Homo sapiens: one gene and its partners. The protein of the gene in region 2 interacts with the protein of the main gene of each other region in a pairwise test. Each region holds a gene or a part of one and is shown on either strand. Other genes may lie near its edges.

Evidence for each region.
Region 1: the proteins of SHCBP1 (region 2) and FGF13 interact in a two-hybrid assay, tested with the Homo sapiens proteins (one study listed by BioGRID).
Region 3: the proteins of SHCBP1 (region 2) and PRKCB interact in binary tests that used the Homo sapiens proteins (3 or more experiments, as listed by UniProt).

What each region holds. Positions count from the first base shown.
Region 1 is NC_000023.11:138,708,708-138,716,428, reverse strand, and holds the start of FGF13 (fibroblast growth factor 13), read left to right. Parts: upstream 1-4,711; 5' UTR 4,712-5,425; coding exon 5,426-5,612; intron 5,613-7,500; coding exon 7,501-7,611; intron 7,612-7,721. UniProt on the Homo sapiens protein: Microtubule-binding protein which directly binds tubulin and is involved in both polymerization and stabilization of microtubules.
Region 2 is NC_000016.10:46,618,282-46,625,574, forward strand, and holds the start of SHCBP1 (SHC SH2 domain-binding protein 1), read right to left. Parts: upstream 3,099-7,293; 5' UTR 3,079-3,098; coding exon 2,976-3,078; intron 92-2,975; coding exon 1-91. UniProt on the Homo sapiens protein: May play a role in signaling pathways governing cellular proliferation, cell growth and differentiation. May be a component of a novel signaling pathway downstream of Shc. Acts as a positive regulator of FGF signaling in neural progenitor cells.
Region 3 is NC_000016.10:24,181,981-24,189,085, reverse strand, and holds part of PRKCB (protein kinase C beta type), read right to left. Parts: intron 3,976-7,105; coding exon 3,895-3,975; intron 3,627-3,894; coding exon 3,519-3,626; intron 1-3,518. UniProt on the Homo sapiens protein: Calcium-activated, phospholipid- and diacylglycerol (DAG)-dependent serine/threonine-protein kinase involved in various cellular processes such as regulation of the B-cell receptor (BCR) signalosome, oxidative stress-induced apoptosis, androgen receptor-dependent transcription regulation, insulin signaling and endothelial cells proliferation.

The DNA of each region.
Region 1 (7,721 bases), on a different chromosome or scaffold from region 2:
AAAAGAGCCTATTCTGTTAGCTTTTCTCTAAACTCCTCATTTGTATTTCTATCCAGTTGTTTCTCTGAGCCTTTGTACATAATTAGACCACAAAAGGTGGTACTTGGCTACCTCATCTCGTAAATACTCTCTCTGCTGCCTTACTTAGTGAATGGGGAGATCCCAGTGTTACTCGACGTTGGTGCATTTGAATCTGCCAACATTTCCTTTCTTTGAGCTCATCATCAGTCCTTGACCAGGTAACTTCCCACTCAGATATTTTGGTGAACTGTTAGTGTAGAAGGAGAACAAACTGGCAAGTGATTCTGAGTGAGCTTATCTTCACATAGGAAGGGTGTTTGAAATTTCTCATTTTCAGAATTTCAGAAAGACAGCCAATTCCTTTCTGCTCAGAATGGACTGAGGCTGCTCCCGATTAGGCTGTCTGAGTTCTCTCATTTTTACTCATCACAGTCACATCTGTTTGGGTTTCTGTCTCTCTCCTGGAGATGCCTCTTGAGAGCAGGTCCCCTCAGCTTCCTTACAGCTCCTCTGAGGCCTGCCAAAAGAGATTGGCAGAGAACGATCAGCATTCTATGCCCAGATAACTCACATAACTCTCTCTGAAAAGAATGCTAAAACCTAGTTCTCAAGTGAACCCACGAGGAGTGGAATCAAAGGGACTTTTGCATTTTTTCCTTGGAATCCAATTTAGAATTTATGTTCTCATGGGGTGGGAAGAGAACAGAGAGATGGGAAGTATGAAGAGGGGAAGATAAAGAAGTAGGAACAGGAACATATGGGAAAAATAATCATAGGCTCCCAGAGCCAAAAGGACTTTAAGGAACATGTCATCTGGAGGTTTCCAAACGTTTTGTTTTTAGTACCAGAATCTTTTCATTTTTATTTTTTACGTAAGAAATCATACAATGAGCTCCACTATATAAAACAGATGAAAAGAGAAAGAGAAATAAACAGTTGAATGAAAACAGTTAAAATAGATGAAATCTACTGTTGAAACATTGGCGAGGGAACTTTTATTACTTTTCATTACTTTTAGATTGCTGAAGAATACAAAGTGAAAACTGCCAATCTTGTCTAAGTATTACTTTAAAGATGGGAAAATTGAGGCCTGTAATATGGAGAAATGACATACTCAAGGTCACACAGCCAATTAGTGGCAGAGATAGGATTAAAACATATGTTTCCAGCCTGCCAGGCTAGAACTCTTTGGGAGTTGAGTTAGAAAAAAAAGCTAAGAATGCTTTCTTTCTGAACATGGTCAAAAAGAGAGGTTGGTGGACAATGCAATGGGAGAGCGGACACGTGGGAGAAACAACGGAGAATAGACCCTACCTTAGAATAGAGCATAGAAGAGTTTGAACCACCAGGGATAAGCAGAGATAACTGAAATTTACAAATATGGAGGAGATCCAGGAAGTTCCATAGCAAGGCCACAATGTGAACTGCTAGGAACAAATCAAAACTGGAGAAAAAGGGATTTGGAAATAGGTGTCAAAAGAGAATTCTTTATTACTTCCCCTACACAAATGTCGTACTATTGGCCCAGGATGGCAGTGGGACAGCAAAGACAAGCAAAATATGCTTCTCTAGGATTGGCTGCAATTCTTTCATTATACCTTCTCAAGATGGATGTGACTTTGGCATAGTTTCCTGTTGGAGATTTGAAAGTAATATTCACATTCGTCTCTGAAATTTTAAGCACCTGGGAAATAGACATGAGAGTTAGGAAAACGCGAACATATCTGCTTTGTGTGTGTGTGTGTGCGCGCGCGTGTGTGCGTGTGTGGAGTTTCGCTCTTATCGCCCAGGCTGGAGTGTGGTGGCCTGATCTTGGCTCACTGCAACCTCCGCCTCCCGGGTTCAAGCGATTCTCATGCCTCAGGCTCCCAAGAAGCTGGGACTACAGGCAGGCGCCACCATGCCTGGCTAATTTTGTATTTTTAGTAGAGACAGGGTTTCACCATGTTGGCCAGGCTGGTCTCAAACTCCTGACCTCAGGTGATCTGCTTGCCTCAGCCTCCCAAAATTCTGGGATAACAGGCGTGAGGCACTACGCCTGGCCAATATCTGCATTATTAATGGTTAAGTTCATTGAGCAATATGATTTGGACCCAATTTCAAAATGGTTTTCTTTCACTTTCTGCCCCAGATTGAATTTACCCTCTGGTCACAGGCCTTTGTGAGTTCTCTTTGTGGAAGAGAGAGGAGAATGAATGAGGTCCGTAGACAGACAGATCACAGAGAGATGCCCCCTTCTCAAGTCTCATTAATAATGTGCCATGCATTTTCCTGTTCATGAAAACAAAAGATTCAAGGGGGTCAGGATATAAAAAGACAGAAATATCTTTTGTGGGTTGGCAGGAACATGTGACAGAGGGAGAGTCTCGTTCCCCCTCCCCCATACTCTTCATTTTTCAATATTATACAATTTAATCAGGGAGAGAAGGATTAGAGCAAGAAGGACATCTACAAACACGTGTAGAATCACCTGGTTATCAGCCTTGGCCCAGTGGTTCCATGAGCTTATGTGGATGGTAGACAGGAGTTAGAAACAAAAGGATGTATTTACAGTTTGTGTTTGCAAATTTGTAATAAATGCCCCCGCCATTCTTATTATATATTCCTGAAGTCTTCTCTGAGTCTGTTTACCTCTAATATGTACCACAGAGTGTCCACACCAATAATTCTACAGGCGTCCTGAAAATACCTTATGAATGGTGTTTGCAGAAGCAAACAGTGAGAGCTATCTGAGAGGAGAAGTGGAGGAAAAACGGTGTGGGAAAGCCCTTATGATTTTCTCAATACCATCTCTTCTTCTAAGGTCTATCCCCTTCCTGAATCAGAACTTCATCCTTCTTTAGCTTTTGCATGCCTGCTCTGGGTCAGGATCCCAAGAGAGAAATGAGAGTAGGAACAAAAGGCCCTTGGGGTTGGTGCTTGGCAGAAGGTAAAAACATGCAGAGAATAAGCAGAGACCTTGTACCTGTTCATCACCCACCCCAAATATTTGGGCTTGATCAAAGCTTCTCCTGACCCCTCTTTATGTAAGATATTTCCCTTCATGGTATCTGGAATTTAAACAACAATCACAAACATTTTGAACTAGGAAATAGCCTCCTACTCTTCAGAATCAATATCAATCAGTCATTCCTCAGGGATTTATTTTTCCCTATGAATCAAATTTTAAAGAAGTGGATACTTGAATAGACTTGAGGTGTTAAAACTCTCGTCTACCTTGTCCTCCCTTTTCATTTGGGAAAGCCAAAAGCACAAAAGAGTAGGTAGAAAATGTCAGACCCTTTGGCATCATTCTCCTGTAACTATCAGTCTCAACCCACTGCAACCTTTACCCCAGTCTGCCTTGCAGACACACAGTGGTGCTTCTGATGGAGCAAGAGACATTTCAAGATTGCAGAGAAGTGGAAGGAGGGGTAGCAACAGCTTCCCCTGTGAAGCAATGGAATCTACAGAAGGGTCCGGTGATTCAGCTCTTATGGGCTAAGAAGCCTGAAAGCATTTCAGTGTTGCTGAGTCCGAGCTTGTTTGTTGGGTAGTCAGGCAAGGAAAAAAGGGCTAGAGTCTGAAGATAAGCTGAGCATCTGGTTTTGCATCTACATTAGTTCTGAAAAGAGGTGATGGGGGTGCCATGTAGGAGTCCAGTAAAGACGGTGTAGGGCTGCCAGGTAGTAGAGCTGCTCTATTTTGCTTCCTAGTTGGCCTCAGAAATCAAGTAAAATAGTCAAATAATTGTGTCTGTTTGAAGGTAGGGATGTAGACAGGCCATTTCTCTTTGCTGCATTTCTGGCCTCAAAACCTCTTCTTTCTTTTCCTCCAGAATAAAATATAACACAGGGAGAGGACAGAACTTGTTAATAGACTGAGGCCAGCAAAAAGCCAGACTGGTTCCTGAATTGGAGGGAAGGAGGCTGCCTGACTTTGGAGGAGCAGAAAAAAATAAGTTAGGAGATTAGAGATGGGCCACAGCTTAAATAGAGAGGTTCGACTCTGCATTTCCCAAATACGTAATGCTTACGGTACACGACCCAAGCTCTCTGCTTGAATCCCAAATCTGAGCGGACAGATGAGGGGGCGCAGAGGAAAAACAGGTTTTGGACCCTACAAATTGGCTTGAAATGAAAAGTCAGCAAAAACCACTGGGTGGCAGCGTGGTGTGCGGGCGCAGCTCTGCAGTGTCTGCTTCTGCTGCTACCGCTGGGGCTGAACCCGTCTGGGGACTCTGGCCTCCTCCCCTGAATGGCTACAAGTGTCGCCAAGCAAAATACCTCTGCGCGGGTGGGTGAGGGTTCTCCGGGTTGTTGGTGCGTCCAAGCCTGAGGCAGGGATCTGGCGAACTTCTGAGGGGCTCCAGCCCGAGCACAATCTGGTCAGCTCAAACACTGAGGAAACACCCCCACCACTCCATCCCCCAATGCCGAGCAAACCCCCGCTCCGTCAGCCCAACTACCTCATCTCAGTTCCTCCTCCATCACTGTTTCCTCCCGAAGCTCCTTTCGGGAAAAGGAGGGGAGAAGGATTTGGACGACTGGGGCAGTGCGGAAGCCCCTACAGGTGTTAGCCGGAACGGGCGGCCGGGGACTTGGGGGGGTGGGGGTGGGGGTGGGGGTGGGAGGGGCGGCCTGCGGCTCCGAGCCTACGGGCTCAGCCCCGGGAGGGAGGGGCCGTCGCGGGAGGGGGCTGCAAGGAGGCTGTCGCGCTGTTCCGGAGGGTGCCTGCGGCGGCTGAATTCCTGTGCTGCGACTGTGCCGCGCCCAGAGCAGCAGCAACAGCGAAGATGCGAGGCCATTACCTGTTTGATCCCTGTCGGAAACCTGGCACGGGCCAACTTTTCCCGATTATCACGCCAAGAAGTTGCAAGGACTAGTCGAAGACTCGGAGGGGCCAGGGCGAGGGCGCGCTCCCCCGCGCGCTGCCTCGTCCCTCCTCCGTCCGGCCGCCCGAGCTCCCGGCCTCTCTCCCGCCCGCGCTCACTCCCTCCGCCCGCCTCCCTCCTCTGGCCCCCATCAGAAGGGCAACAGGGCGAGGGGGTCCGGCGAAATTCGGACCGGAGCAGCTGGACATGCACGGTGTCCGCCGGGCGCAGGGGCCGACCACACGCAGTCGCGCAGTTCAGCATCCGCGTGCCAGTCTCGCCCGCGATCCCGGGCCCGGGGCTGTGGCGTCGACTCCGACCCAGGCAGCCAGCAGCCCGCGCGGGAGCCGGACCGCCGCCGGAGGAGCTCGGACGGCATGCTGAGCCCCCTCCTTGGCTGAAGCCCGAGTGCGGAGAAGCCCGGGCAAACGCAGGCTAAGGAGACCAAAGCGGCGAAGTCGCGAGACAGCGGACAAGCAGCGGAGGAGAAGGAGGAGGAGGCGAACCCAGAGAGGGGCAGCAAAAGAAGCGGTGGTGGTGGGCGTCGTGGCCATGGCGGCGGCTATCGCCAGCTCGCTCATCCGTCAGAAGAGGCAAGCCCGCGAGCGCGAGAAATCCAACGCCTGCAAGTGTGTCAGCAGCCCCAGCAAAGGCAAGACCAGCTGCGACAAAAACAAGTTAAATGTCTTTTCCCGGGTCAAACTCTTCGGCTCCAAGAAGAGGCGCAGAAGAAGACCAGGTCGGAAAGGGCTTTTGCTTTCTTTTCCCCATACTTTACGAGTGAGGTGGGGGCGGTGGGGAGCAGGTATGTAGCATAGGTGAGTTTGTTGGTGGCCCATCTTGTGCAGAAGAGGCCACCTAGCCTGTGTGCGTGCGTGGGAAGGCGCTGGCTTTCTTGCCTCCGTAACAGTAACACGCTTGCTGCATTGCAACTGCCCTGGGACAGGCGCAGAGCCTGGGGGCATACTCTGCCCTGGGTGGCTTGCCCTCAGCTTCGGACATGTCACATATGTGCATGCCCGGTGGGCTCTGGGCAGGCGTGACCCAGACATGGCTGTGATATGTATGGCGTGGAAATTGCAGGCGCAGAGCTGGGCAGACACCATCCTCCCGTCCCCAGGAGAGCCTGGGGAATCCCTCTCTTGCTTTTATCTCTGCCTCAGACCCTTCCCCTCCAGCTTCCACCTCCAAGGGATGTGGGCTTCTGCTGTCTAGGCATTGCGTTTCTTTGATGACTTTTAAGCTTTTTGGGACAGACTTGACTTGTGGTGCAGCTTCGAAATGTTTGCTGGGGCGGGGGGAGGGGGGATTTCTAGAACCTTGTTGCAAAGAGCTGAGAGATTTGGTTAGACTTAGTGTAATCGGTTACATGCTACTAAAATGCGGTGTTGAAGAGGGGATTTAAGCTCATACCCAGACTGTGGTGCTTTTGAACATTTTCAGTGGTAGGAGTAGCGCGATATTCCAGCGACTGGAAATTCAGCTCTAGGTGTCAGGTTGCGTCAAGGCAGACCTTCAGGCGAGCATGCAGTTTATTTGCCATTCTTAACCAAATGAATCTTTTACACTCTTTTCTGCCTTTTACTAGATAAATATTACAAAAAAAATAAGAGTCACCGATCTGTTATTTCTCCATTTATGTGTGCTACACCCTGGGATGGAAAAGCAGACATAACGTTTTCTGTTTGCACAAAGTTTTTAATGCATTAACTGTAAATTAGGCTTGTTTCAAAAAGGCTTAAGTGGTTGCAAAGCATGCTTATGTGGCTCGAATAATCACATAAATATTATTTCAGCGCAGGAGTCTATATTCAGTAAAAGAAAATTTTGGATAACATGGCTGTTATTGGTAAATGAGACACTTGATTGATCTATGGTTATTCATAATTGAAAATCATTTTAATTAAGAACTCATATTTTTGATAATCATACTTCTGATATGAAATTTGAAAAATTAGTATGCACTGATTTTTTCCTTCCTACCAACAAAAACCCTGCTCTTTTCACACACATTTTCACTAATGATAATTAATATGACAAGATTTGTTAATGGTGGTTGTATCTCCCTCCTCCCTTTTTTGGTATAAAAGGCTCAATTTTCCAAATACAGTTTCCTTAATGGGGTTCCACGTTATTTATGCATTTTCTACCTTCTTAGAATAAAGGAGATTATTTATTCAAATTGTGGTCATTCTGAAGGAAATCTTTGCTAGTGGGTTTTTGGTCCTTGGTCGGTTGGCAGACAACTCTGAATTATCTTTCTATTTCTCCTTTTCCTTTCACATGAAAAGTAGCACAATTTCAAAAGGCAGAATAGCCATTTGCCAACCCATTACAAATACTCAGTGAGATAGAGTTCCACTCTGTAAACCAAAGGACAGGTTATCAGAAACTATAGACACTTTCAGAAGCTTTACCAATGTTTCCAGATAGAAATAAAATGTTTCTTTAGTTTGAAAATTTATTCTGAAACTCAGAGTTTGTTTTCTTTCTTCCAGACACCTTAAAAGTGTAGTTTGACTTTTTCCATTAAGATTTGTAAATGAAATTAGAAATTGAAATTCCTAGTCTTTTCAACTACATAGGCACAATTTATCAATTGATCCAAATCATTGTTCTCTTTGCAGAGCCTCAGCTTAAGGGTATAGTTACCAAGCTATACAGCCGACAAGGCTACCACTTGCAGCTGCAGGCGGATGGAACCATTGATGGCACCAAAGATGAGGACAGCACTTACAGTAAGTGACTGCAAAATAAATAGTATATGCCAGCATGTTGTTAACATTCTGTTTTTATTTATTTTAAAAATAAATACGCTTTCCTAAATCCTGAATTAAATGCAAAATAT
Region 2 (7,293 bases):
GTTTTTCCTTCTGGCATAAAACTTTGTAAACTAGAACCTGGTTTATCACGGTAGCTACAATCACTGCATGAATCTTCATCTTGGAACAAACCTAAAAAAAAAAAGCAAAAATAAGCAAGCTCCAGTGCCTTATTTGAATGCTTCTATTTTCATATCCTTGCATAGAAATCCCAAACAAAATACAAACAAGAATTTGAATATGAATAGTCTACTTACCTCTACCATTGTGAGAAGAAACTAGTTTTCCAAACTTAAAAATATTTCAAAATCCAAATTCTACTTCAAAACAATAAGCGCTTAAGATCTTTCACAGTTAGATTTTTGTTGTTGTTCTGTGAGGTTTTGGGGAGAAGTAGAAGGCTGTTTTTGTTTTTGTTTTAGAAACGGTCTCACTCTGTCACCTAGGCTGGAGTGCAGTGGTGCGATCATAGCTCACCGCAACCTCAAACTCCTGGACTCAAGCTACCCTCCTGTCTCAGCCTCCTGAGTAACTAGGACTACAGACATGCACCACCACATCCAGCTGGAAGACAGTTGATTTTTAATTCAGTGGAAATCACTCAAGATCTCCTACAAAGCATACAGCCTGTGATTTATACTACAGTTAGCCAGTGATAATAATCAAGTATCTTAGTTATTTATTTTCCAAAGCAATTCCATAAAGCTCCTTTAAGAAAGGGAGCTGACTTCCTCTCAGATGGGTTAAGCCCTCCCTTTATTTCCTACAATATCAGTCTGTCAATCGCCCCTCAATAAACAGGGACGAGAGTCTTAATAATCCATAAGGTTTACTTCAGTAAGGTTATTAGATTCCTCCTCACTAATTTCAATGACTGTGTCTAAGGAAAAGATCAGAAAATGCAAATCACATTAGGTTTGGGCTGTATATAATGTTTCATAAGGTATGATTCAGCCAGTGGCATATCTAATTCTATGTAATGTTTTTAATAAATGAAACAACTACTAAATAAGCAATGCTAAAAAGGGTAGCATTTAGAATGTAGAGTAGTCTCCAGAAGTGGTTTCAGGGAAGGTATCTGAGCTGTTAGCAGATACCTTTTTTCTCCCTCCCCCTTGATTTTCTCCTTCCCTTTCCCCCTTCCTTCCATTTCTTTGTCCCTGTTCAGGCCACCAGAAGTACTTGACCCACAGATGACCAAAGTGTACTCAAGGGTCTACTGCTCACAAACACTGATGCACATGAACCTTAGAAGGCATCAGTACCTTACTGGTTATGTGACAATGCCTCAGCTTCCTCACCTATAAAGGGAAGATAATAGTACATCCACTTCAATTAAGAAGATTAATTGTTAATAATTTACAACAGTGCCTATTACATAATGTATATGTTTGTTAAAGAAATAGTAGTACTTCAGCACCATTCTTTTTTTTTCCAGCACCATTCTTTATAGCTTTATGGAGGTATAATTAACATATAGAAGTTATATACATTTAAAGTGTATAACCTGATGGCCAGGCACGGTGGCTCACACCTGTAATCTCAGCACTTTGGGAGGCCGAGATGGGCGGATCACCTGAGGTTAGGAGCTCGACACCAGCCTGGCCAACAGGGTGAAACCCCGTCTCTACTAAAAATACAAAAATTAGCTGGGTGTGGTGGCGGGCGCCTATAATCCCAGCTACTTGGGAGGCTGAGGCAGGAGAATCATTTGAACCCGGGAGGCAGAGGTTGCAGTGAGCTGACATTGTGTGCCACTGCACTCCAGCCTGGGCAACAGAGTGAGACTCTGCCTCAAAAAAAATAAAATAAAATAAAAAATAAAGTGTGTAACATGATGTTTTGATATACCTATACATTATGAAATGATTACCACAGTAAAGTGAATTAATATTTCCATCACCTCGCATAGTTACCTTTTGTGTGTGTGTGGTGTGAACACTTATGATCTACTCTGTTAGCAAATTTCAAGTACAAAATTTGTGTCGCATTGCACCATCACGTCATTGCCTATTAATACTGTAATAATAATACAGTATTATTAACTATAGTCACCATGCTGTATGTACATCAGATCCCCAGAACTATTCACACTGCATAACTGAAACTTTGGACCCTTTGCCCAGCATCTCCCCATTCCCCCAACCCACTGGCAACTACCACTCTACTCTCTTTCTGAAACTTCCTCTTTTTTAGATTCCCAATATAAGCGATGCCATGCAGTATTTATTTTTGCAGCCACTTTAAAAACTTTATTTCACTTCAACTTCACCACAAGTACAACCATTGGCATAGTCTTCCAGATGGGAAAACTGAAGCCAAGTGACTTTTGCCAGTTGGATAGGTGGGTTAATAGTGGAATTGTCACACTTATGTTTTCTCACTTTGTTGGGACTCTCTGCTACACAATACAACCGAAAGTGTTAACGTAAAAACATGAACCAGCTTAAAATATCAGAAAAAAAAAATAGTAATGAAACTCTATGAGGAGGAAGAAAGGGCAGAGAACTAGAAGACCCCGGTTCTATTTCTGGACTCCGGCCCAAGTTGGCGCTCCTCACTTTGGACACGTCACTACCCTCCGTGCACAGGACAGCCATCTAAGCCAAGGGTTCAAGCTTTTCTCTTCTTCGGAAAAGGGAAGTGTGGTTCGTGATCTCCTTTGAGATGCAGATGAAAAAATGGCCCCTTGAGCAACAGTAAATGCACAGTTCCCGCAAAACCCATCCAGATAGGGAATTCCTGGCCCAATCCAGCTCCCTCCAACCTCGGGGCGGGCGGAGGCCAGAGAGTGCAGGGAGAGTGGGAGATGCGGATAGGGAAGAGAGGGAGTCCCCCACCCCTGGGTACCGCCCGACTTTGAGGTCCCGTCACTGGGTCCCGGCCGCGCACCGCCGTTCCCGCCACCCTGGACAGACGGGTCCGGAAGGCCCGCGACCCAGGCGCCCTCCTAGGGTCCCGACGCCCCAGGCCTCCGCTCAGAGGCGGCTCCTCGGCCCCGGCATGGAGAGCTCACCTTTCTCCAGAGACGCCAGCTCCTGCTCCACCGCCCAGCCCATGCGCTCCGGCGCCATGGCCGCTGCCTCCAGACCGCCGCCCGTCAGCGACCCGTCAGCCATTTCAAATTTCCGCGGACGGCAGCCCAGGCAACGACGTGATGACGCAGGCTCTGCTGATTTGATAGTCGGGCCGAGGCCGTGGACCAATTAGAGTCCGGCCCCGCTCCAGCCCCCACCAACACTGCCCCCTCGCCCCAGGCTGACAGCTGTTCTTGTTCAAGTGCCCGGCCTTTGCTTTTCTGGGATGAACTTGAAGAAAGTCGAATTGGAATATAATTTGGAATGATTTTCGAAAAAAACGAACCAGCAATGCCTGGAAATGAGATATAGTGGAAAAGTCACTGGGTTGAGAGTCAAAAAACATAGTATTTAAACTTACCTGGGCTATTCCTAGTGGTATTGCCTTGGGCAAGTCATTTCACCTCCCACAAGCACAACTTCAACTGAAAAGGATGCTGGCCTACGTGGGCCCAAAACTTTCACCACCAAACACCAGTCTCTCTCTGTCTTTCAATACACACACACACACACACACACACACAGAGAGAGAGAGAGAGAGAGAGAGCATATTTTCAAAGAATGTCAAATTAAATTTAGTAAGTAAATTTGTTAATTTGCATTAATCAAAGACAACTATAATCTCCATCATAATGGCTAACATTTACTGCATATTGTGTGCAAGATACCCTCCTGCATGCGTTACCTGGATTGTTCTGTTTAATCTTCACAATGATCCTATGAGACGGGAGCTATTACTATACCCATTTTACAAATGAGCAAATGGAGTCACTAAGAAGTTAAGTCACTTCTCCAATCTAACCCAGCAAAGCCAGGATGTGAAACCAGCCAGACTCCATGAAGAAGCCTTTTAATGTCTCTGCCAGGCCATCACTACTAGAATGATGAGGTCAGCCCAAGATAGCCCAGGTAACCAGGACACCAAGTGGGATGCGTCCACAGGGGACCAAGAGCCTGGTCATGACAGTTCGTCTGTGCAGTCTTAATGTGGGGAAACATTTCCACTTATTGCTTTGAAGAAACACCTTGGGCTAAAGTCTCTCGGATCCCTTACAGCTGAAATAAAATGGAGCCAGGAGGGGTGACTGGAAAGCTGCACTTAATTGGGCTAACTTTTCCAGGAAGTAAGATTTCTTTGACTTTTGTTTGCAGAATCTGACCTTACATTTATTTGCTCACTGAACAAATACATATTGAGCACCATGAGGTAAAAACACAGAAAACAATAATCAAGACTATCAACAGGCCTTGAGGATGACGCTAGCTTTTTCATTATTCTCTTCTTCAACCTTGCCGCCCACAAACCTCACAAATGGCAGCATTTCTCCTCACCCATTTGCAGCATCACTGGAGACAACACAGTTCTCTTCTCATCCAATTATCAAATATTTCATCAACCATCAAGATATTACTCAAACCAGGCTAGGCATAGTGGCTCATGCCTGTAATCCCACCACTTTAGGAGACCGAGGCAGGCGGATCACTTGAGTCCAAGAGTTTGAGACCAGCCTAGGCAACATGGTGAAACCCCATCTCTACAAAATTTTTTTTTTTTTTTTGTTATAGAAATCTGTTTAATGGTTTAGGAATGTGTACACTCTGGCTCTGCCAAGTTTCCATAAAGGCAACTTTTCCATGTTTTAAAAAATAGATTTGGTATAAAGATTTGTATATTCATAAATAGGTGGCATGAAAAATTACCAAATGCAAATGGAATACTTGCGCTGACTGAAGCCCTGTTCACCCCAAGTCCAGGCCCTGCAGGGGTCCGAGGGTCTCTGCTGGAGGAGGCCCCAACTCCGGCAGCCTCTTAGGGAAGAGAAACTGAATTAAATGTGTATTAGGAACCCCTCCAGCTCCTTAAGCCAGCGTCGCACTGGCCCCACCGAGGCCTCAGCCCACCTCCCTCTGCTTCCCCCCGCCACCTCCACCATTGCCCCCTCCCCTGCACTCTGGCCCCTGACCCCACCTGCTCCCACTCTTTGGCAATTTATCAACAAAGGAAGAGATGACACTGTTCTCCTTCCGCCCCAGAGCCCGGGCTGCCGGGAGAGCTTAGCCTGCCAAGGGGAGGAAACAAGCCGGCTTTGTTTTGTCTCACACACTTCCCCATCTTCTCTCCCAGCCCAGTTTTAAGGGCCGGAAGGGCAGTGGGGCCCCCTCCTGGTGGGATACAGCAGGGCAGGAGCCCCTGCAACCCCAGGTACAGGTCTTGAGTCCCTGGACACCGGCTTTTGTGCCTGAGAGGGGGTGGGAACGCTTCTCTGTAGGAAATGGCTTCAGTCCAGGATCCAGGGGTAGGGGAACCTCGACCATGGGGTGGGTTGCTCCTGCCAGGGGGTACTAGGGGCAAGGCCCCAGGGTGGAGCCAGTTCTGGGAGCTGTGTCCAGCTAGGCATCTGTGACCCCAAATGGCATGAATAAAAGGGCAGGTTGCTAAGAGCCAGGGGAGGGCATGGGGCAGGGAGACCAGGTTGGCCCAGACAGGACAGAGGTGCTCCAGGGACAGGGTGCTGGAGTGAAGCCAGGTGGAGCGGTGGAGCTGTGGAGCCTTTGAAACATCCTGAGGGCCCAGGCCTGCCACAGGGTGACCTGGGCAGAGGAGAAGCCCAGAGGACAGCAAGGTGCCCAAATGAGGTCAGGGCTTCTGGGGTGGAGGGACGGGGGGGCACAGTGGCGGCGGGGGAAGGAACGTTGAGTCCCAGGTGAGCCTGCCTTTCCAGGCCAAGCCCTTGGAGTGAGGGTGCTCCTGCCTGGGGGGCGAGAAGTGGAAGTGGCTCACAGTCCAAGGTGACAAATGAACCCATCACCGGTCAGCTACCATCCCTGTGAAGGAGCCAGGGTGGAAGGCCCTGTCCATGTCCTCCCTCCCTCCCTAAGCCCTGAGGAAGGTAACAGCCCCACCTGTGAGGCCCCAGCCTGGAAGCAGAGTAGGAGAGCCGGGCTTCTTAGAGGTGGGCAGTGGGTGGTGGTGGGCAGTACTGGTAAGTATGCTTGGGTGGCTGGGACTTGCCCTGGAACTGGGGCTGAAATTCAAACGGGGAGGCCCAGGCCTTTGTTCCCAAGACCCTGTGAATGCTCCCTGTTCCCCCAAAAACAGAGGGGCTCTGCAAGGACAGGCTTCATGGGATTTCTCTTTCAGAGTGGGCCTGCAGTGAAAGACCAGCTCAGCCCCTTCTGACCATGTGACCCCAGAAACTTCAGCCCCAGCAGAAAGGTTGTGAGGCTGGAGGAAGGCACTGCCCACGGCACATCCAGTCCCAGCGGGGTCTGGGGGCACCCCTCAGTGCCAGGCACTGTCTGCCCTGCAAGGGGAGCCCAGGCACTGCAGTGGAGGCGCAGGGGCAGAGCCCAGACCCCACTCAGCTCCACTCTCACCCCTGCCACAAGCAAAGCTGCTGAGAAAGGGAGCCAGGCAGCCTCGCCTCTGGTGCCCCCCAATCTGATGCACCCAGACTCCCCTCAATGCAGGTGCCAGCCCCTCAGCTCCTGGCAGCCTTCCTCCCCTGCAGAACCAGGCTCAGCCATTCCACAGGTAGCCTCCCTGCCCAAAAGGAAGCCTGGCAGGTGAGATGCTGGCTCCACCACCAGCATCAAGCCCTGCTTGTCTCAGTCTCAGCAGAGGAAGCCCTGTCCAGGCCCCAACCCTGCCTCTTGGGTCACCGTGGCACTGCTGTAAGGCCTGCTCTTGCCCTATGGCCAGGCCTGCCTGGAAAGTGCTTAGTGCAGAGGGCAGGGAGGCATGGGGGAGGCCTCTCACTGGCCCAGGGACTGCACTGAGCCATGCCTGGCCTGGCCCTGGGAGCTAGACCACAAACCGACGCAGCCCTGCTCGTGGGTCCAAGAGCTGCTTACTTCTGGGGGCACCCATGCTGAGGGGGCTGCGAGGCAGAGCTGGGCTGACACAGACGGACTGGGATTGGCTAAGGAAGATCACTTGGCCCCTCCAGCCCTAGCCCTGGCTCTTTTGTCACTGTGATACCTCTGAGCCACATGCCCAGAGGACAATGCTGCTTCCCACATCCCCCTACCCCACTTTTGCCTTCTAACCTTGGTGCCCAGCTCAGGGTGAGGCAGTTAAGGGTCCAGGGAATAAAATGGGCCAGGCCAAGGACCGCCAGGGCCTCTCCTTTTTTGTCTGGGAGACTCGATTCCATAAACTAGACTGGGACCCACGCTCGGCTGGCAGGATTCCTGCTTGTGGGGTAAGGCTGGGTGCCTTGCGGTGCCCTCTCATCCCTGAGCCTCAAGGATGCA
Region 3 (7,105 bases), about 22 Mb from region 2:
AGAGGTTTATGGAGGGTGAGGAAATTGAGCCAAGGCTTGACATTTGTGTAAGATTAGGATGGGAGGAAAGAAAGGGCAGTGAGGTTTTGGTTCACACTGATAATAACATCAATAACGGCTTCCGTGTACTGAGTATGACAACATCATATGCGTTCAGGCTCCGTGCTAAAGGCTTCCCGGCCATTACCCATTACTCTTTAAACTTTGCAACAATACTCTAAGGCCTCAGCAACTATTATCCCCCATTTTCCAGGTAAAGGATGTGGGTGCAGAGAAGTAAAGTCATCTGCCTAAGGTCAAACAGCTAAGGAGCAGGGCAAGGCTTTGAACAGCTCTGCCTGGCTCAGGACTCTTATAGCTTTATGTTCAGTCTCAGCTGTTCAGTGTCTGCTGGTTTTCACCCTAAGGTCCTGTCTATTTGGGCTTCTGTTTGCTTCAAGTTTGTTCAAAGTGGGAATAGCCATCTGAGTAAGGTTTTACTAATTTTTTTTTTTTAGTAGAAAATCGGGCCTTTAAGGGAATGGACATATAAAGGACACTGCTTCAATTAAACAGGTGACTGTTTTCAAAAGCTCAACTGAATTTCTGTCTAAGCAGGAGGATGCCAAGCAAAGAAAAGGTACTGCAAAAACATCCAGCATTAATTCGGAGTCTCTGCCCAGTTCCCGCACTCTGCTCTAATGTGCCCGAAGCCATGTAGACAGCTGGATTTAATCACTGTTCCAATCTCTGATCACCTCCCAGACGTATCCCCTGGGGCTCGCTGTTCCAGAGGAAGCATTTGGCTGTTTGCTTGAGCATCACTCGTTTTTGGAGTACCCTCCTTGAAGGAAGAGCCCCATTGGACTCAGCCCACTCAATTAATAATGGTCCCCAAACTCAATAGTAAGAGAGTCACCCCAGTTAATCATGAAGGTTATGGGTCCTGAATTAATAGAAAACGGCTCTACCAGGGAAACTGCTAATTGGAGCAGGAGCTGAAGGCAGCTGACCTGGAAAATGCTCTTTCCTCCATGACCCATTTAGAACCCCCAGCTGTCCAGGCAGGGCGGGCGTGTGAAGGGGAGGACCCTGTGGATGTATTAAACACCTACTATGTGCCCACATCATGCAAGGAGCTTTCTCTTATGTTATCTCATTTAATGCTCTCAAAAACTCTTTTCAATGAGTACTACTATTCCATTTTTTAAAATAAACAGAAGCCCAGAGATGCAAAGGAAGTGGCTTAAGATCTTGCACCTAGGCTGGGTGCAGTGGCCCATGCCTGTAATCCCAGCACTTTGGGAGGCAGAGGCAGGAGGATCCCTTGAGCCTGGGAGATCAAGGCTGCAGTGAGCCATGATCACTCCACGGCACTCTAGCCTGGGCGACAGAGCGAGACATTGATAAAACAAAACAAAACAAAACAAAACAAAACAAAACAAAACAAAAACACCTTGTGCCTAGAAAGTAGAAGGGTCAAGATTTGCAAAGGGTCCCTTGATCTCCAAAATCCCCTACTTTAAAAGTTGCAATTCCAGGGGATGCAAACTCAAATGCCAAGAGGAACCTGGCAGATAACACAATAGCGTCAGCACTAGTAATAGTAATAATAACTTCCAAGGGGCTTGGAGCAGAGTGCCAGCCTCTATTCTAAGTGATTTACAGTATTCAGCTGTTTAGTCATCAAAGAACCCAATGTGGAGTGCTATTATTATCCCCAATCTGCAGATGCCGTCAAACAACTTCCCCAAGGTCCTGCGGCAATTAATGCCTGAACCAGGATTTGAACTTGGAGAGAATTGGCCAAATGAGAACGTCTGAGAATTACAGAGGGCAAGCTCCAACTACAGAGGGCCATGGTTTCCAATCCAGCTGACTGGTGCTTTGTAAGAATGACAGGCCAATGTGGCAAGATCTGATTTTTCAAGAGAAACCTGAAAGCTGAATGTTTTTGAGAAATCTCTGGATCCTTATATGCTGGTAATTATTAAACAAACTAAAAGCTCCAGGTACCACCTTCTCTCTACCCGCCCCCACCCTTCAATAACTTGTCTACGGGGGCCTGTGGAGGCCTTCGTGTGTGCCTTTTTTTTCTTTATGGGCTTTGCTTGGGTTCCTAATGCACCTCTGGGACTCCCCTCTCTATTCTTCACTTTCTTTCTCCCTGCCTCACACCCTCAAAGAAAATATTTTCAAGCAATTCACTTTAGATGTTCGGGATTGAGACTAATTCACAGGTGGTTTCCCCAGGGATACATGCATCTTAGCCTATGCAGCTGAGGTGCAAACCTTAGGTGATTCATTGAGAGTGGGAATTTAGGCAGTGTGACAAGGCGCTTTTAGGCTGAGAGGCTGGCCCAGCTATTCCAAACTGGGCCAAGCCTCAGATTGGCCTGCCTGAGTTTCCCAGCTTTCCTTCACCCAAGACAGTGCATCCAGCATCTGGCTGGGGTCAGGAAGAACAAAGTAGGGCATGAAAAGTCTGCAAGCATCCCACAGATCTAGGACTGGCAGCCCTGGTTTATTCAGACACACAGGTGGGAACCCACTGATTAAGGCACGGCCATGTTCTAACCTGTACCACTGGGTGGAGGGAGAGCAAATCCTTTATTAGTATATTATGTGTAGAACATATTTTCTGGGCGTCTAATTCTATTGCTTTCAGGCTTCCATCAGAGTTGAAAAATCACTTCATTTGGACAGTATTTTTAAAGGCAGTGGTCTGCAAGCCAAATGGAGACTTTTCCAAAATACTCATACCCAGACTTAATCTCTGGGGTAAGGCAGAAGCATGTGCATTCTGGTAAGGCACTTCGGGTTATTCTGATGGCTCCAAAGGTGAGGGTCGCTGATCTTTAGGATCTCACAGAAGTCACTGTGAGTATGCCCTGGTCCAACACAAGATGCAAAACAAACAATCCTTCCCCATAAACACACATCCTGCTTTCTTCACAGGTGCCCTGTGCATAAACCGTAGATGTCCAAGCGTGCATGCCCTTTTAGCCATTTGTGTGTGTGTCTGGGGAGAGGAGACAGTGGGATTTTGAGTACATTGAATTTCAGTCTGCTTATCTAGAGAATTCCTTAACCTCAACACGGCGTGGTATTTTTTAGAACAAAAGTTGCACGCTCTTAGTATTAACTAAACACATACAGCAGAGCAGGGCAAGATAGCCTGAGTTGTGCAAAAGACCTCTTGTGCCCTTTCCCATGACTTCCAGCTCTTTGACAAAATCTCTGTGCTTTCTACCTCATTCATTCAATAAGCATTCCCCTGTGCTGGTTCAGAGACTGCAGCCCAGCCAGCAGCAAGACGCAGCTGCAGGCAGCTCTCTACAGCACTTCTGTGCAAATCAGAAAAAAAGCTCTCTCTCCTCCGGGAGGTAGCAGCTCCACATCAGGGTTCTCATATTGGCAAATGGAGTGAAGGGTGGAGTTCAGGCTGTGTTCCCCCCTGGTGGGGTGTTCTTGGGCAAGGTACAGCCCACATGCCTTTATGTGGTGGTCCTGGTCACAGCTTTAAGAGATGCACTTACCCCTTTGCAGATGGCCACAGCTTCCTTGGACATAGACTTGGGATAGGCTACGTTGTGTTCCATGATGGATTGGAAGAGTTCATCTTCATCCTCCCCTTCAAAGGGTGCCTGTATGACAGGGGAGGGTGGGAGGAGAAGAATCCCTGCTTGAACCCTCCCCCTAGCTCCCCTCAACTGGCAGACCCTCCTCCCTGGGGCCCACAGTGAAGCCACACACCCAGGCTTTCAAATGACCACAGACTTGTATGACCCCAAGGCCGGGAAAGTCATAGAGGTTCCAATTTATGAGCTGTTACCAAACATGCATTCTCCTAAAGAAACCATGTGGATGGGGGTAGGGAGGACTTCTCTTATCGATCACTTAAAATTCAATTACCTGCCCAGCCAACATTTCATACAGCAGGACTCCAAATGCCCACCAATCCACGGACTTCCCATAGGGCTGATAAGCAATTATCTAGAAAAGAGAAGGCACCCTATCAGGGAGGTTTGCAGTTCATGTTTCTTCTGGAGACAGATTTCACTCTTCTTTTACAAGAAGGCCAGTGCCCACCTGAACTGTTTCTTTATATTAGCTATTCAGGGAATGACAGACATGCTTTGCAGAGGCACCTGCAGCTGGGCAAACACCTGTGGCTGTCACATTGCCTTTTCGAAGCACTAAGTAAGGTGTATTGTTATTATTATTTTCAAAACAGTGAGCATGGAATTTTTAAAAGGAAAAACTGTCTTTACTCCTCTGTAAAAGTTACAACATTTACACAATAATGTAAATATACTTAACACTACTAAATTGTATACTTAGAACTGGTTAAAATAGTAAATTTTACGTTACATGTTTTTAAAACATAATTAAACATAAAAACGTTTAAGAGATAACAACATTTGTCACTATTTTAATATTTCTTTATAAAAGATAGCTCAGCTGAGATAATAACATGAAAATCACCCATAATCCTTTATTAAGAGAAAAATTATGACTAATATTTGGTCTACTTCATTCCATACTCTTTTCTCTGAATACATATTAAACTCTGTGTGTATGTGTGTGCTTTACATAAACACTTTAGTATTTGGACGATTTTTTTTCTTTTTTTCTTTTCTTTTTTTTTTGAGATAGTGTCTCTTTTTGTCACCCAGGCTGGAGTGCAGTGGTGAGATCATAGCTCACAGCTCACAGCCTTGGCCTCCTGGGCTCAAGCAATCCTCGCACCTCAGCCTCCTGTGTAGTTGGGACTACAGGTGCTCACCACCATGCTAATTATTTAATTTTTTGTAGGGATGGGGTCTCTCTATATTGCCCAGACTGATCTCAAACTCAAGCAAAGCTCCCATCTTGGCCTCCCAAAGCACTGGGATTATGGGCAATAGATCTTTAATAAAGCCAGTTATTCACTTAAGTTTTCCTTGCTAATTTAATATTTGTATATGAACATAATCAATTTTTATCTGTGCATAGCATTCCGTTGAATGGATATACCAAAATCTATCTTATAAATTTCCAGTTGATTAGGTTTCTTCCAATGCTGTAACATATATTCTTGTAATTAGACATTTGGACATCTGTCCAAGTATTTCCTTAAGATAAACTCCTAGATGTAGAATTGGTGTATCATATGGTATATATGGTTGTGAAGTTTTTAATTCATATTCCCAAACTGCAAGAACATGGAAAAGTCTAGAAGAGCTATGTGATTGTCCATCTTTCAGTATGCAGGGATGTAAAACTAACCATGTCAGAGGTTAAGAGGTAATACAGCAAAGGCTAAAGGCTGAGGTCTGAGGGTTAGGCAGTCTGACTTTGAATCCTGACTGCTGTCTACCGGTTGGCTGTCTGACCACAGGAGAAGTTACTTAACTTCTATAATCTCTATATCATGAAGTTATGTGAGGATGAATGAGATACTCGGTGGCTTTCACATATTATGCCCTCAAAATGTTAACTAATCCTAGAATGTTTTATAATTCAGTTATTGCTTGTTTAACTCAAAAAGGGTATTTGAGCAAACTTGGCTATAAAGTGAATGTTTGTTTCTTGATCTCTATCTCCCACTTTGATTTCTATTCCAAAATCAGAAATGCAGAGATGTTGATTACAGGATACAAAATTTCAGTTAAGTAGCAGGAATAAATTCAAGAGACTTATCGTGTAACACAGTAACCATAGTTAATAACAATCTATTGTATTCTTGAAAATTGCTAAGAGGGATTTTTAAGTGTTTTTACCATAAAAAAATAAGTATGTGAGACAATAAATATGTTAATTAACTCAACTTAGCCATTCCACAATGTATGCATATTTCAGAACAACATGTTGCACATGATAAATGTATACAATTTTACTGGTCAATTATGAATGAATGAAATGCATTCTGAGAAGTAACCCTCAAGACAAGGAAGGGAAAGCATTCCAGGAGAACACTTCTCATTGAACGTGTTTTCCACTTTGGGAGGCCGAGGCGGGCGGATCACGAGGTCAGGAGATCGCGACCATCCTGGCTAACACGGTGAAACCCCGTCTCTACTAAAAAAATACAAAAAAAATTAGCTGGGCGTGGTGATGGGCACCTGTAGTCCCAGCTACTCGGGAGGCTGAGGCAGGAGAATGGCATGAATCCAGGAGGCAGAGCTTGCAGTGAGTAGACAGAGTGAGACCCTGTCTCAAACACACACACACACACACACACACACACAAGAAACAATGTGGGATGCCCAAGCATCATCCCATTAGAATCTCTGCAGGTGGAGGCCCAGGATCTGTGGTTCTCAGAAGTTCCTCGCTGGTCGTGATTCAGGCAAGCACAAGAAACCCTCAACTGTGTGGCTGGTGAAGTTGCCTCCCCTCCAGCCCACAGATGGGAGGGATAAGCAGCAGGTCAGGCTTTGTCATGAGCTAACCACATCACCTTCGGCAACTGCTGTCACATCCCAGGCTCTAGTTTCCTTTGTAAAAGGATTAACTTGTTGGCTTGTCATGAGGATCAAATAAGACTTGAAGTACTTTAAAAGTGTGGAAACACTTTCTTTCTTTCTTTCTTTCTTTTTTTGAGACAGAGTCTCGCTCAGTCGCCCAGGGTGGGGTGCAGTGGCATGATCACTGCTTACTGCAGCCTCTACCTGCTGGGCTCAAGTGATCCTCCCACCTTAGCCTCCTGAGTAGTCAGGACAGCAGGGGTGACCTAGTGCACCTGGCGAATTTTTAATTTTTTTTGTAGAGATTAGGGTCTCACTATGTTGTCCAGTCTGGTCTCAAACTTCTACCCTCAAGCGATCTTCTTGCCTCAGGCTCCCAAAGTGCTGAGATTACAGGAGTGAGCCACCATGCCCCAGCTGCATCCTACATTGTAAAAGCTCCCTCACGACTCTAAACTGCAGTTAGAGTTGAGAACCAGAGATTATGGAACCCCTGGCCTATCAGGAAGTTGTGTTATGGATTGTGTCCTATCTAATTAATTAACAAAATGATAATAGACCAAAGCATATCACATAGGGAAAACTTCACTGGGTCCGAGTAAAGCCTTATTATTTTTAAAGAATTACTTTATTACTCAAGTAATACCCAAATACATTTACCTTGTAAAAAATGT